Linked DNA regions of Homo sapiens. The gene in region 2 interacts genetically with the main gene of each other region. Each region holds a gene or a part of one and is shown on either strand. Other genes may lie near its edges.

What was found. Genes that interact genetically often act in the same process or in processes that back each other up.
Region 1: of CSRP3 (region 2) and MYOD1, changing one enhances a phenotype caused by changing the other (phenotypic enhancement), as found in Homo sapiens cells (one study listed by BioGRID).

Annotation. Positions count from the first base shown.
Region 1 is NC_000011.10:17,715,366-17,722,591, reverse strand, and holds MYOD1 (myoblast determination protein 1), read right to left. Parts: upstream 3,022-7,226; 5' UTR 2,810-3,021; coding exon 2,180-2,809; intron 1,691-2,179; coding exon 1,612-1,690; intron 1,338-1,611; coding exon 1,084-1,337; 3' UTR 456-1,083; downstream 1-455. UniProt on the Homo sapiens protein: Acts as a transcriptional activator that promotes transcription of muscle-specific target genes and plays a role in muscle differentiation. Together with MYF5 and MYOG, co-occupies muscle-specific gene promoter core region during myogenesis.
Region 2 is NC_000011.10:19,191,975-19,198,995, forward strand, and holds part of CSRP3 (cysteine and glycine-rich protein 3), read right to left. Parts: intron 4,946-7,021; exon of another isoform or gene 4,739-4,945; intron 503-4,738; 5' UTR 475-502; coding exon 363-474; intron 1-362. UniProt on the Homo sapiens protein: Positive regulator of myogenesis. Acts as a cofactor for myogenic bHLH transcription factors such as MYOD1, and probably MYOG and MYF6.

The sequences.
Region 1 (7,226 bases), 1.5 Mb from region 2:
AGTGATGCCTGGGCCACAACCTTCCCGTGGTTCTTCTGGTTATCACACCTGGGTTCACTCACTTTATATGGAGGGGATGATTCTCAGCCTTGAATGAACTTCAGAATCACTTGGGGAGCTTTTGAAAAAAAATACCAATACCTGGCCCTGGGTATATGGGGCAGAAACATTAAATCAGAATATCTAGGGGGCGAGCTCAGACATGGGTTTAAAAAATACTCATATCAACCTGTGTACCCTTCCATAAGAGCCACGGACGTGTGTAGTAATGTAGTCAAGGTCAGAGGAACTTCCTCACGTACTGGAGAAATTTGCACCCCTCCTTCCTTCCCCAGGCAGCAGGCTTCCTCCTTGCAATCCGCCTGCCGCCTACAGGCGTCGCTGAGGGACAGCTGGCCCAGTTTGCGGATTTTCCTCCGGATCCCACACCCATGTCCAGGGAAAGCCGGAGCCACGGCGGTATAAATTAGCGCCTTTATTTTGATCACCTGAGCGAGCGCCCGCGGCTCGCCCGCCTGCGGTATAAACGTACAAATTCCCTGTAGCACCACACACCATGCCTCAGAGATAAATACAGCCCCAGGGGCTCCTGCTCTGGCAAAGCAACTCTTATTTACAGGAATAGATTACAAAAGTATTACAAAAAGTGGTCCTGAACCGGGAAACGGGTTGGGGGTGGGTTACGGTTACACCTGCTACATTTGGGACCGGAGTGCACTGGGTCTCACGCCCCCCCAAATAACCGGTGCATCCCGGGGCAGGGCTTAGGTCTGCGAGGGTCTCACCCCCATGGGGGAGGGCGCGAGAAAGCTGAACCTAGCCCCTCAAGGTTCAGCTCTGGCCCACCGAGGAACACGGAGCGGCCATCGCAATGGGTCTCCGAGAAGGGTGCTGCGTGGAAAAAACCGCGCTGTGTCCTTGCCCTGTGGGGCGGGGGCGGAAACTTCAGTTCTCCCGCCTCTCCTACCTCAAGAGAGGTCGCTTTTAAAGCGCTGTTGGGAGGGGGGCATTTAAGTTCAATCTTTTGGGCGCGAGGGACCCTAGGGGCACCATCCCTCGGGCGGGTGGGCGGCCACCATCCCCTCAGAGCACCTGGTATATCGGGTTGGGGTTCGCACCCGCAGGGCACTGCGGGGCGGCGTCCGGTGACTGGGTGGGGTCGCCGCTGCTCTCTCCCTCGCTGGGGGCGGCAGCCTCTTGCCTGCGCGGAGGCGACTCAGAAGGCACGTCCGCCAGCAGGAGGGCGGGCGCCGCAGGGCTCTCGGTGGAGATGCGCTCCACGATGCTGGACAGGCAGTCTAGGCTCGACACCGCCGCACTCTTCCCGGGCCTGGGTTCTGCGCGGGGAGGGCTCGGTTAGTAAGCAGGGGTGGGGCCGCGACAAGCCTCCCACCCCCGGGCCCAGTACTTTGAGACAGATTGGAAACTGAGGACTTTAGTTAGAGTCCGGGACAATCCAAAAGACAGGGAGCTACTTGCTTAGTATTTCATCTCCTGCACCACTTCCCAGGACATAGGCGTGTGTGAGTGGGGGTGGGAGCGTCCTAGATAGAGGCCAGGACAGCTCCATGAAGGAGGAGGAGCGAGCAGGGAGAGGCCCGGAATACCCACCGCTGGGCGCCTCGTTGTAGTAGGCGCCTTCGTAGCAGTTCCGCCGCCGGGCGCCGCTCGGGGGGCCGCTGTAGTCCATCTGCAAACAGCAAGGGCGACTGAGTCAGGCCCGCGGGACGGCTCGAGGCCCGAACACCAATTCCTGTAGCCGCCCCCTCCCTAACTCTAGCCTAAGGCTCTAGTTCCGGGCCCAGACCTGTCCTGGTTGGGGGGGTAATTACGGGTGGGTAGGAGATGAGGTCTGCAACATGCAGGGCCAAACCAAGGGCGGACAGTCACCAAGGGGCGCAAATTTACATTTTGGAAGTAGGGATAAGTAGAGAAAAAGATCTTCACGTTCGCGCTGCAGTGTTCTAATAGCGCCCCCAATGGGGCAGCTCGAACGCTTGCCCGCACACTTCCAAAACAGGCTACCCCAGTGACAGCTGCCCAGGACAAGGGGGTCCTCTCTCTCGGGAAGGATCCTGGCCCAAACCTCCCGCAAGGCCAGCTCCCCGCCCTCGGAAACGCGTCCCTGATATCCCGAGCGCCGCCCTAACTTCCTCACTTCCTGGGGTCCCGGCCTTACCATGCCGTCGGAGCAGTTGGAGCGCGGGCTGGACGCGTCGGAGTCGCCGCTGTAGTGCTCGCCGCCGCGGCCCGGGGGCAGCGGGCCCGGCGCATAGAAGGCGGCTGCGGCGCCAGGGGGCGCGGCGTCCTGGTCGCGCAGCAGAGCCTGCAGGCCCTCGATATAGCGGATGGCGTTGCGCAGGATCTCCACCTTGGGCAACCGCTGGTTTGGATTGCTCGACGTGCAGCGCTTGAGTGTCTCAAAGGCCTCATTTACTTTGCTCAGGCGGCGCCGCTCGCGCATGGTGGCGGCCTTGCGGCGGTCGGCGTTGGTGGTCTTGCGCTTGCACGCCTTGCAGGCCCACAGTAGGCAGCGGCCCGCCTGGTGGTGCCCGCTGGGCGCGCGCACATGCTCGTCCTCACGTGCGCCCGGGGCCGGGTGCACCGCCGCGGGGAAGTGCGAGTGCTCTTCGGGTTTCAGGAGCGCGCCCACGTGCATCAGGCGCGGGTCCAGGTCTTCGAAGAAGCGCAGGTCCGGGGAGTCGAAACACGGGTCGTCATAGAAGTCGTCCGTTGTGGCAAAGGAGCAGAGAGAGCCGTCGGGGGCCGTCAGGTCTACGTCGCGGAGCGGTGGCGACAGTAGCTCCATATCCTGGCGGTGGCGCGGCACGGTCCTGGCTTCGCCCAACCCAAGCGGCAGAGAGTGGCCGGAACTTTCTGCCGCTCGGGAGCCCCGGCTGTAGATAGCAAAGTGCTGGCAGTCTGAATGCCCACCCACTGTCCCCCACCCCTCCCTCTCCTGTCCGGCCTGATTTGTGGTTAAGGAAAGCGGCGGCAGCGCCCCAGGGCTTCCTCACCCCTAGCTTCTCGCCAGGCGCCCTGGGCTATTTATCCGTAGTAGCCTAAACGCCCCGGAGCCCAGGCGGGCAGCTGGGGGAGGGGGAGTCCGAGGCCAATAGGAACACTGCGGGGCGGGGCTTGGGGGGGTCCCCGGGGTGGCCGCAGGGGCCCGCAGACTGGCCAGCCAGCCCGCCCCTCCACACTGGCGTGCGCGCTAGGTCCCCTACCGGGCAGGGAGGGAGGGAGCGACCGGCAGCCCTAGGCGGCTGCACTTGGCTCTCCGGCACGCCCTTTCCAAACCTCTCCAACACCCGACTGCTGTATCCGCGGGAAACGCTGGCTGCGCGCGCTCACCTCTGAGCTGACTTTCAATACTCCTCTGTCCCCTGATTTGTGGGGGACCCATGGGTAGAGCGGCTGTAGAAATCAGGTCGTGAGAGATTTGGAGAGAGGCAAGGCATTGGGGGCACAGAGCTGAGGAGTGAGACCGTGAAAGAGGGACCGAAAGAGGCTGAGAGACACGCAGAAAGCAGAAAGCTTAGAGCGTCAGGGGCAGAGAAACGCACGAGTGCAACAACAGGCGGAGAGACCCCGAGAGTTGAAGTGGGCGAGCCCGAGACAAACGGGTCGTAGAGGCTCTGATATTCCGCCAGTCCCCGACCTGGGAGTTGCTCAGCAGGTCGTGGGCCCAGTCCTTCTTCCCTAGACGCTTAGAAACCCAGCTATGGTTGTACAGGAATCGGAGATTGCTGCTAAAGCTTCGCGCCAATCTCTCCAAACTCGGATCCTGCCCAGGTTAGGAATCCCCTCCATCTAAATCTGCACGTTTCCACAGCAGGGGTGTCCAGTGCCATGCCTGGGGTCTAGGCTGAGCTGCCTCTTCAGCTGGGAAGAAAACCCTTCTGCTCGGGGCTTGGCTCCGCCTCACTCGCGGTGCTGAGTCAAGGAAAGTGCATTTCGCCAAGGTGTCAAACTTCAGGACCTGGCCTGAGAACCTGACCTCATCTCACCTGAAGTCTCCGAGAGTGCGGTTTGCAGACCAGTTGAGTGCAGACTCCAGAGTTTCCCAACTGTGTGATTTTGTGGAAGTCATGTCTCCTTCCTGAGCCTCAGTTTCCAGTTATAGATTTGGGGATGACAGTAATTTCTTGGAGTAATTGTGGTGGGGATGACAGTCTGAAGAGACCAAGGATATGGAAGCCCTCAGGCGGTGATGTAGGGTTATTCGAGCAAGGGGCTTTCAGAGTTGGATGCTGTGTCCCGCAGGCTTACAACTCATCTGTGGTACCATGCCCTGACGGAGTGCCACGAGTCTCCAGGCCTTAGCTGTGTCTCTTTCCTGCAGCCTCACTGGAAAGGCTGGAAACAGGAGGAGGCAACCACCCCATGGGATGTGGGATATCTGGCTCCCATACAAGCCTCAGCATACCGGCCACCCCCATGGGGGTCTCTCAGCCTCTTCCTGAATCTGCAGTTCACACAGTCCTCTCAGCACTCTGGCTAGGAATCTCCGTTGGCCATACATCCCTGCCTGGATCTCCCCTCCTGGAAACCAGAAATTTAAGCAGGAGTGATCTTTGTGCCTTTCCCACTAACTTCTGGAAGGCATTCTAGCTGGCCGTTCTGGGCCCTAAGAAGTCCTCCCTTCCCACAAAACTCAGAGGGCTCTGTTGGGGTCCTAACTTCTTCACTTCTCTGCTGCTGGTAGTGGTGCTGAAGGTCTCCCTTCATGAAGTACTCACCTCGCTTTACTCCATAGGGCCCACCTGTATTTGTTCATTCAGTAAAGTCTACATCATGGAGCAGCAGTGACAGTAACTCTAAATCCTGGCAGAGGCAGCAAAGTCCTGGCCTCACCCCACCCAAGCTGCAGGGGGTCACCCGGAAATCCACATATTGTTAGGTATCCATTATGTGGCAGGTACCAGTCCAAGTGTGGGGCTAGAGCAATGAACAAAACCAAGACTCTGCTTACATGGCACTTACATTGTCAATGTAAGCAGGGTGATAGACAATGAACAAATAAGCAAGGAAGTATGTGATGCCAGGAGGTTAGAAGCCTTATGAAGAAAAAGCAAGGCAGGGAGACACAGTGATGAAGATTATGGAGTGATTAGAGAAGGCCTCTCTGCTACATTTAAGCAGAGACCTGAATGAAGAGAATTGGAAGCAGATACCTGGAGATATGTAGGGCCAGATAGAGGGATAAGCATGTGCAAAAGTCCTGAGGCAGGACCATGTTTGGCAGATTCAAAGTATGGCAAGGAGGCTCATATGTCTGCAGCAGGGTGAGTAAAAGAGATAGTGGGAAATGGGGTGAGAGAGAGAGAAACAGGATTATATTCTGAGATGGCTTGAGCCATCTCACTGGAGGGCTTGAGCGGAAGAGAAGAATATCACTATCTGATTTACATTTTAACAGGAGCATGCTGGTTACTGGAGGGAAAGGGCAGAAGGAGGGAGACCAATTAGGAGGCTATTGCAATAATCCCAGTGAGTGGAGCTGGTGAAAAGTGGTGGTTGAATTCTAGATATATGTTTTCAAGATGGAGCTAGCAGTATTTACTCACGATTGCATGTGGGAAGTGAGATAAGCAAGGAGCTAAGGATGACTCCTGCAAGAATGGAGTTGAGAAGACTAGGTTTGTGGGTGGTAGATTAAGTGTCCAGGTTTGGGCAAAATTTGAAATGCATATCGGATATCCAGATGGAAGTGTGGATTAGGCAGGGGGATTTTTAAGGCTGGAGTTCCCAAGGAGAGGTCTGAGTATGAGGAAGAGCTGTCCATTCTACCTCTAAGACCTGTCTCAAGTCAGTCCATCCCTAGTGTCACCATCCTGGACTAAGCTGTCACACTGCTGCTCTGGATGACCACAATAACCTGGCTGCCCTCCTCACTTCCTCTGTAGCCTCAGTATAATCCATTCGTTACATAGCAGCCTGAGTAGACCTTTACAATGTAAATGGGATTATGCCATCCTCCTGCTTCAAACTCCCCAGCAGCTTCTTGCATTTAGAGTAAAATCTCATCTCCATCCCCTGGCCTATCAGGCCCTGCATGAGCTAGCCTCAGCCTGTGTCTCTTACTACACCTGGAGGCACCATCCGTTTTGATTGCTCTACTCCAGTTAGCCTGACCTCCTTTCTTGTCTTCTAACACTCTGAACAGGATCCTGCCTTGGAGCCTTGTCCTTGCTGCTCTAAACTCATAGCATTATCCCCTGGGCTTTTCCCAAGATTGACTGCATTTTATATAATAGATCTTCTTGCCTCCTTGGGACATCACTGACCATTCCCTCTAAGATAACTGCCCCCCATACTCTGGTTCACACCACCCTGTTAATTTCCTTCCAGGCACTGCCACTCTTTATAATCTTCTTCATTAGTTTGTTCATGACTGACTTAGCCCCATGAAGGCAAAGATGTTTTGTTCACAATGACATTTCCAAAAACCATCACAGTGGCAGTCACACAGTAGGCACCTGATAAATGTCCAGTGAATGAATGAGTGGCCTCACGCCCTTTGCATCTCTATGCATATATTTGAATGTCTTGAACTGTGACATTAATGAAGATGGTTGAATTTCTTCAAAACTGGGAAGTCACATACATGATTAGACATCCATGTTCTATTACACTTGCTCTTCCCAGGAAAGGCTCAGACCCCATCTGCCTGGGGCATGTTCTCTTGAACTGGGCATTATACATGGCATGCTGCAATATTGTAGTGGTATACTATAGAGAGATTTGGCATCTCGATGTGTCTTCTTATTGTTTTTTCACTATACTCACAATGAGGAATGTAAGTAATTGTTGTATTGATGATTTAGAAACAAATACTTCTTCCTACTTGCTCAAGGCTCAGCAGAAAGCCAGGTGCATAGTAGGCACTCAATAAATATTTCTTGGGCAAATGAATGAATGAGTCTACTTAATTAAAGAGTACTCTGAGATTCCCAGGTGAGCTATTCAAACCACTTATCTATGCAAATCTAGATTTTCCCCAAATCTGAATAAGCAAGAAACTACAAAATAAATTGGATGCTGAGACAAGTGAATACAACTTTGCTTTTTGTGCTTTGTGTTTCTAAAAACTTCCTCAGGGCTGTCATCAAGTTGCCTTTACAATAAATAAGTAAATGTTATATGTTTGAACTTACCAAACACATTTAATATTTTATCACTTATGGCTTATAAATCTAAACTGCTTTGACAGTTTTAAGCTT
Region 2 (7,021 bases):
CTGGCTTCAGATAAGTGCTGGCTTCCTTTCTCTGCCAAGTCACATGTTGTCAATGTCGCCATGGGGTCAAAGTTTTCCCTACAGAGAGCAGTGACAGGCTAGCTTGTTCTGACGTTGAGCTACAGGAAAATGAATGGCCTCTGAGCTGGGCAAGCAGTTGAAGCAAGGGTATTCAGGAGAGCACCATCTTTTCTTGGTGGAGCCCAAGAGTTAAATTTCTAACCAGTTCCCAGGTAATGCTGATGCTGCTTGTCCCAGGACCACACTATGAGAACCACTGGCATACAGTGTTTGTGATTCAATGTGAATTTTGTGATGCTGTCCGGATGCTGAGGGGCCCCCAGGGTGTCCACCCAACTCACTGCAGTGGAAACACGTCTTGTGGAAACTCCTTCCATTGCACTGGATTTCTTCTGCATGGTAGACGGTCTTTTCACAGGCTCCACATTTTGCGCCTCCGCCCCAGTTTGGCATCTTGAAGACTATCTGGTCAAGGTCAAGTCTAAGGGGACATAAAGCAAATACCCTACATTGAAGTGGCCCCAGGAGTGAACCAATCTCTAAGAGTGCAGTGGTCTGAAGACCAGGATCCAGCCCAATTTTTTTTTAGTGTTTCATTTATTCATTCATTTAGCAAACAGCTACTGTGTGCTAGTCATTAAATAAGCTCAGACACTTAGATGGCTTTGGGTAATCACTTTACCACTTGGGAACTCAGTTTCTTCTCCTGTTAAATTTCAGTAACATCTATTCCTATGTATCTCACAGGGCTCCCGGAAGGAATGAATAGGCTAATTTCATGTACATAAAAGTATATACAAAGATCGTTTTTTTTTTCATCTCAAGTTTAAAAAATTATCCCATCAGAACTGGGAATCATCTGTGAAGATGGTATTTTCTTCTTGTCTAGCTAAGAGCTTCTCAAATCACCTTAGACCTTGCTAAATGCAGATTCTGGTTTGGTAGATCTGGGGAGAGGCAGGAAATTCTGCATTTCTAACAGACTCCAGGCAATATTGATGCTGCTGGCAGTGGACTACATTTTGGGTAGCAAAATCTTAGCTTATCTTGCTGATAGAAAAGCATATTAATAATATATAAAATCTCCTATTCCAAGTTATTCCTCATATCCATACATTCCTTTTTAAGAATATAATCACCTAGGCTATAAGATATATTGGCACTACACTAGGTCAGTAGTTGGAAACTTGCTTTCTGCTTTCAGGGCTACCCTCTACCTGCTGTTCATATCAGGATGAACTACATAGCTTAACTTTATACCTGTTTTCCCACCTATACAGTTATTCTTTTCCCTGCTGCTTTAGTGTCCTTTAGAAAATCAAACGACATGATGTGCAGGAAGGTCCCACAGAGTTCACAGTGCTCAACAGGAGCCAGACCATGGTGCTGACATGTCCTCCTGCACCATTGGAGACATTCAGCTACAAGGAGCTGCTAATAGCCACAGCCCCAGGACTGTCATTGTCTCCTCACCACAGGATTACATTTAAGAGATATTAACCAAAGAAAATTATTTAAAAAAATAATTGTCCTCTGTATTTTTAGTAGAGACGGGGTTTCACCATGTTGGCCAGGCTGGTCTCAAACTCCTGACCTCAAGTGATCTGCCCGCCTTGGCCTTCCAAAGTGCTGGAATTACAGGCTTGAGCCACCGTGCCCGGCCTAAACAAAAATTAGCCAGGTGTGGTGGTGGGCACCTGTAATCCCAGCTGCTTGAGAGGCTGAGGAAAGAGAATCACTTGAACCCAGGAGGCGGAGGTTGCAGGGAACCAAGATTGTACCACTGCACTCCAGCCTGGGCAACAGAGCGAGACTCCGTCTCAAAAAATAAATAAATAAATAAAATAGTAATAATAATTGTCCTCATCTGCATATGTTTTTAGTATGAATCCAAGTTTTCAGTTTCCTCAAAGCAGAACTAAAATAAGCCATTGATGTTAAATGAAACTTCTGAAATTCAGCTGCCCAGGGGAGCTGCATTTTCACTGGGATCCTCTGGTTTCTAAGAAGCCTAGTGTGTCATGACATGGAGCACTATCCAGCCATTCTGAGTGGCTGCTTGTGACCTTCACTTTCCCTTCTGGGAAGCCAGTCACCTTCTTATAATAGTTGGCGATTAACACTAAGCCCTCCTGGGTCAACTGGTCCGGATTGTATCTCACAGTCTCATAACAAAGGCAGTTTTTTGCTAAGAAACAGAAAGTAAATAGCAAACAGACCACTGAACCTGATACTAGGTCTAGAAGGAATGTTTCTATCTAAATATTCCCCCAAAGAGCTTTTCCTGCTTAGAAAAACTGTGAGGTTAGCCAGGAACATCCTATCCTTCCTCTCACAGAAGTAGGATCTTCTGCTAATTCAGTAAAATTTTAGAAAAGAACTTTAAAAAAGGAAACATTGGGCTGGGCATGGTGGCTCACACTTACAATCCCAGGACTTTGGGAGGCCAAGGCAGGAGGATCACTAGCCCAGGAGTTTGAGACCAGCCTGGGCAACATAGTGAGGCCCCTGTCTCTACCCCACCCCCCAAAAAATTACCCTGGTGTGGTGGCATGCTCCTGTAGTCAGTCCTAGCTACTCAGCAGGTTGAGGCAGGAGAATCACTTGAACTCAGGAGTTCTAGGCTTCAATGAGCTATGATCACACCACTCTACTTCAGCCTAAGTGACAGAGTGAGGCCCTGCCTCTAAAATAAATAAATAAGAATTTCTTAAAAAATGGAAGCATGTGGTTTTTCTATTTCTGTAGTTCGGGTTGTTTAGGAAACTAGAAAGAGTAATGGATTTTGAGTTGAAAGACTTAGAATTAAAACTCACATTCATTCGTTCATTCATTCATTCACCCTGCATTTACTACCTGCCTATCATGTGTCAAGTACTGCACTAAGTACTCAGTGACAAAAGGGGGAAAACTTATAAAAATGAGTAGTTTGTGACCCCTGGCATTGAGAAGCCCATGTTGTAGTGAGAAAAATAGACAAGATTCAGAATGCTCTGTACCAGAGAAGAGTCTTGTGAGACATGCTACAGAAACTCAAATGACGGACTGGCTCCCCACATTTAGTCTGGGGATAAAGGCAGTGAACTGTTGGAGGGTCACAGAAGAGATCACATTCAAATGGGGGTTTGAAGGGTGAATAGGAGTTCACCAGATACAGAAAAGTGGGAAGGAATAATGCTAATGAAGTCATGCAGAGAAAAGAGCAAGCAGAAAGGCGTAGAGGCCTAAATAGCCTCTAAAATAGCCCAAATTTGTTTATTTTGGACTCCATTTAAACTACAGACTTTCAGGGCTGGAATAGATTTTTAAGATTGCTGGACCCTCTCATTTATAACCAAGGTGTATTTAAAAGTAAGCATTTAGGGATATTTTTCTTAGCCAACTTCTTTTTATACAATCCATTCTTCTCTCATTAAAGATGTTACATTTTCTAGAAAAGAATAGACTCACATAATTTTGCTCATGTTCATTTTGATCCTGAGTTTCAGCATGATACAAAATAGAGGAGAAATATAATAAATTTCCTCCAGGAACATGGCAGCGACACTTGTAAAATTAATGATATAGAAATTTTCAATGAAAACAACCTTAGGTCAAATTTCTCATTTCAGATTTGCAGTGGAGATTTCATTGGCATGTCTTGCAAGTTAATAGGAGACAGAGATACCTCTTGGGGGATAAAAATACATATATATCTGTGTGTGTGTGTGTGTGTGTGGATTCATTGCCTAGGCATACTTTTCAAAATGAGAATAGGATTACAGATAATACCTCCTTCACAAACTAATGTATCCTAGCACTGGTTGTTTTTAAGCGATCATAAATATCTGACATATATCATCAGGACTTGAAATTTAAAATATAAATCTGTAAGTACTCTATTAATGATGCTCAGTTCCATTTCTGAAGATGGGAATGTAACCATGGAGGCTAAACAGAAGATGTCTCACAGGCCAAAAGGTAGAGGATATTTTAAAGCATCCTGAATCCAGGCCAGGCATGGTGGCTCACGCCTGTAATCCCAGGACTGAGGCCGAGGCGAATGGATCATGAGGTCAAGAGATCAAGAACATCCTGGCCAGCATGGTGAAACCCCATCTCTACTAAAAATACAAAAATCAGCTGGGCGTGGTGGCATGCACCTGTAGTCCCAGCTACTCAGGAGACTGAGGCAGGAGAATCACTTGAACCCAGGAGGTGGAAGTTGCAGTGAGCTGAGATTGCGCCACTGCACTCCAGCCTGGCGACAGAGTGAGACTCCATCTGAAAAAATAAGTAAATAAATAAATAAAAAGGCATTCGGAATCCAGAGACATGGATTCTAATCTCGACCTTGAACTCGGGTAAAAAATGTTGATAATAGTATCTCCTGGGCAGGACCATTGTGAAGGTCATGGAAATATGATGGAATTTAAAGCAGTATTGAGAAATTATTTTTTCCCACTTCACTTTAGGTTACTCAAATGGCACCAATGTGCTAATTAAGGAGCTATGATTTGAAATCCCAGTTAGGTCCTGGCTTATGAACATAACCTTTTCAGCTTCCCGCATTGCTTTGGAATTCTTGTGTCCCAACACTCCCCTAGACACTCCCAGAATGTGAGCTTACCCTGGCAAGGTACCAAGGGATGGGCCATTTGTTTATCAGCGTTGCCTGGTACTGGCAAGGGTCATTGAAGGTGGGATACAATTATAGGCTTGCCCGTCACTCGGCCCTGTTTGTAACCTGGGTCACAATCTCCATCATACCACCTGGCACGACTCTCTGGGCCAGTCCCTGAGATGACTATGTTGTCAAAGACAAATCGTGGGTCAAGATTGAAATGGGGGACAGTCTGGAATTTACGAGGATGAGATAGAATGGACAGCCCTGTGACATCAACTTGGAAGAGGTTGGACTCCAGATTTGGATACTCAGATCCCGGTGAGAGACTACCTTGTGCCCACTTTTAAACTAAGATGTAACTAATACCATAGAAGAGATTATACTAGGAATGTGCTTCAGTGGGGCAGTGGGAAAAACACTGGATCAGGTGCCAGAGGCTGGAGTTCTAGTTCCATTTTGCCTCTTCGAAGCTGTGTGATCTGGGAAAACCGTTCAATCTCTCTGAACTTCAGTGTCTTCACTAGAATGAGGGCAATAATCCTTTTGATTTCACTATTGCTGAGAGGACCCTATTAGTTCAAGTACTGTCATATCATTCTGTAAATTGTAGAGTAATATAAAATGTGAGAACCAATTAGGTTCTCCCACAATTTTAAGTTGTTATTCATCAATCTGAATTTTCAAAAGAATAACTAAACTGTGTATTTTGGGCACATTCTTCCTAATCCAACTATTTCTCCCTCCCTCCCTCCCTCCCTCCCTCCCTCCCTCCCTCCCTCCCTCCCTCCCTTCCTTCCTTCCTTCCTTCCTTCCTTCCTTCCTTCCTTCCCTCCTTCTTTCCATCCTTTTTCCTTTCCTTCCCTCCCTTCCTCTCTCCATCTCTTTCTCTCCCTCTTTTCCTCTTTCTTTCTTTCTTTCTTTCTTTCTTTCTTTCTTTCTTTCTTTCTTTCTTTCTTTCTTTCTTTCTTTCTTTCTTCTTTCACTACCAACTATAAAGCTGAGCAATGATGAGTTAGGGCAAAAGTGGTGGGTACATAAAATGAGCACCCAGGAGGGAACTTTAGGCCATGACTTTGGGCAGAGACCTCAAGCCACAGTGCCACAATGCCACCGTTTTCAGCTCAGTGCTAGCTCAGTTGGTCATCCTACTAGATGCCTGATTTCCTGCAGTGAGTTCAATTGTCTACACTGGCTGAAGCAAAGATTTTGGATCATAGGAACATATATATATATATATATGGAATCTAAGCGATAGTAATAGTCATTTCTAACTTTATTATTGAAGTTAACATGCCTGGAGCACTGCCCTTGGGTATCGTTTAATCTTCACAACAACCCTTCAAGGTAGGTGCTATTATAACATTTACTTTACAGATGAGGAAATGGAGGCTTTGGGAAATTACATTAGTCCAAGTTCATGGGACTGATATGTGTCACATGAATAGATTGGAACTTACGTTTCTCTGACTCCAAAGCTTTACATATATTATTTTATGTCAGTTGCTTTACATATATTATTTTTTAATACTTACAACAGCTGCCCAGAGCAAATTTTATTTCCATTTTTATGGATAAGAGAACTGAAGAGCTTAAGTAGCTTTTCCAAGGTCACACAGCTAGTAATTGGAAGAGCTGCCATTTAACCCCCCGTTAAGCTGGTTCTGTATCTCATGCTCCTGTTTATAACACTGGAGAGAGGACAAGGGTCAGCACCTCCATCACCCAGACTTCCCAGTTGATGGGAATTGAGACGTGACCAATCCATTGTCTCTCCATGGGACACAGAGGGTATTCAAGGGTGGGACTAACAGGGAAACTGAATTCATTCACTGAAATCAATGACTTTCTGAGTTACGGCTGTTCAACATGGAAAGGGCTTCCTTGGAACTGGAGATTTCTTCTGCACTATTGATTTTCAGCTGAGGTGGGGACGGATGTCCAAGTGGCTGCTATACAGTGAAGTCCCTTCAAGGGTCCTTTAAGCCCTGAGACAGATTTAAGGATCTGAAAAGTGATTGAAACCTCACTTTGCAGAAAAGCTGCCCAATGGGGTGCCCTCTCAAACCCTCTCCTTTATTCACTCTTAATTTGGGTAAGAAAGATGACATAGCCACAGTGAAAACCATGGGCTTTGGAAGAACCAAGCTTAAGTTCAGAAACACTAACTGTTGAACACTGGGCAAGTTGCTCAAATTCTCTGACCCAGTGTCCTCAATGCATGTCCTCATGTAAAGACAATATGAGAAGGCTTGTCTGGGAAGGTTGTTTTCAGGTTAAAGAAGATAATAATAGCTAAGACACCATATAGAATTACTTAATACATAGCAGGAATTGAATAATTGTAGTTACTTGCATCATGACTATTATTGTTGTTATTACATTATCTCCAGTTTT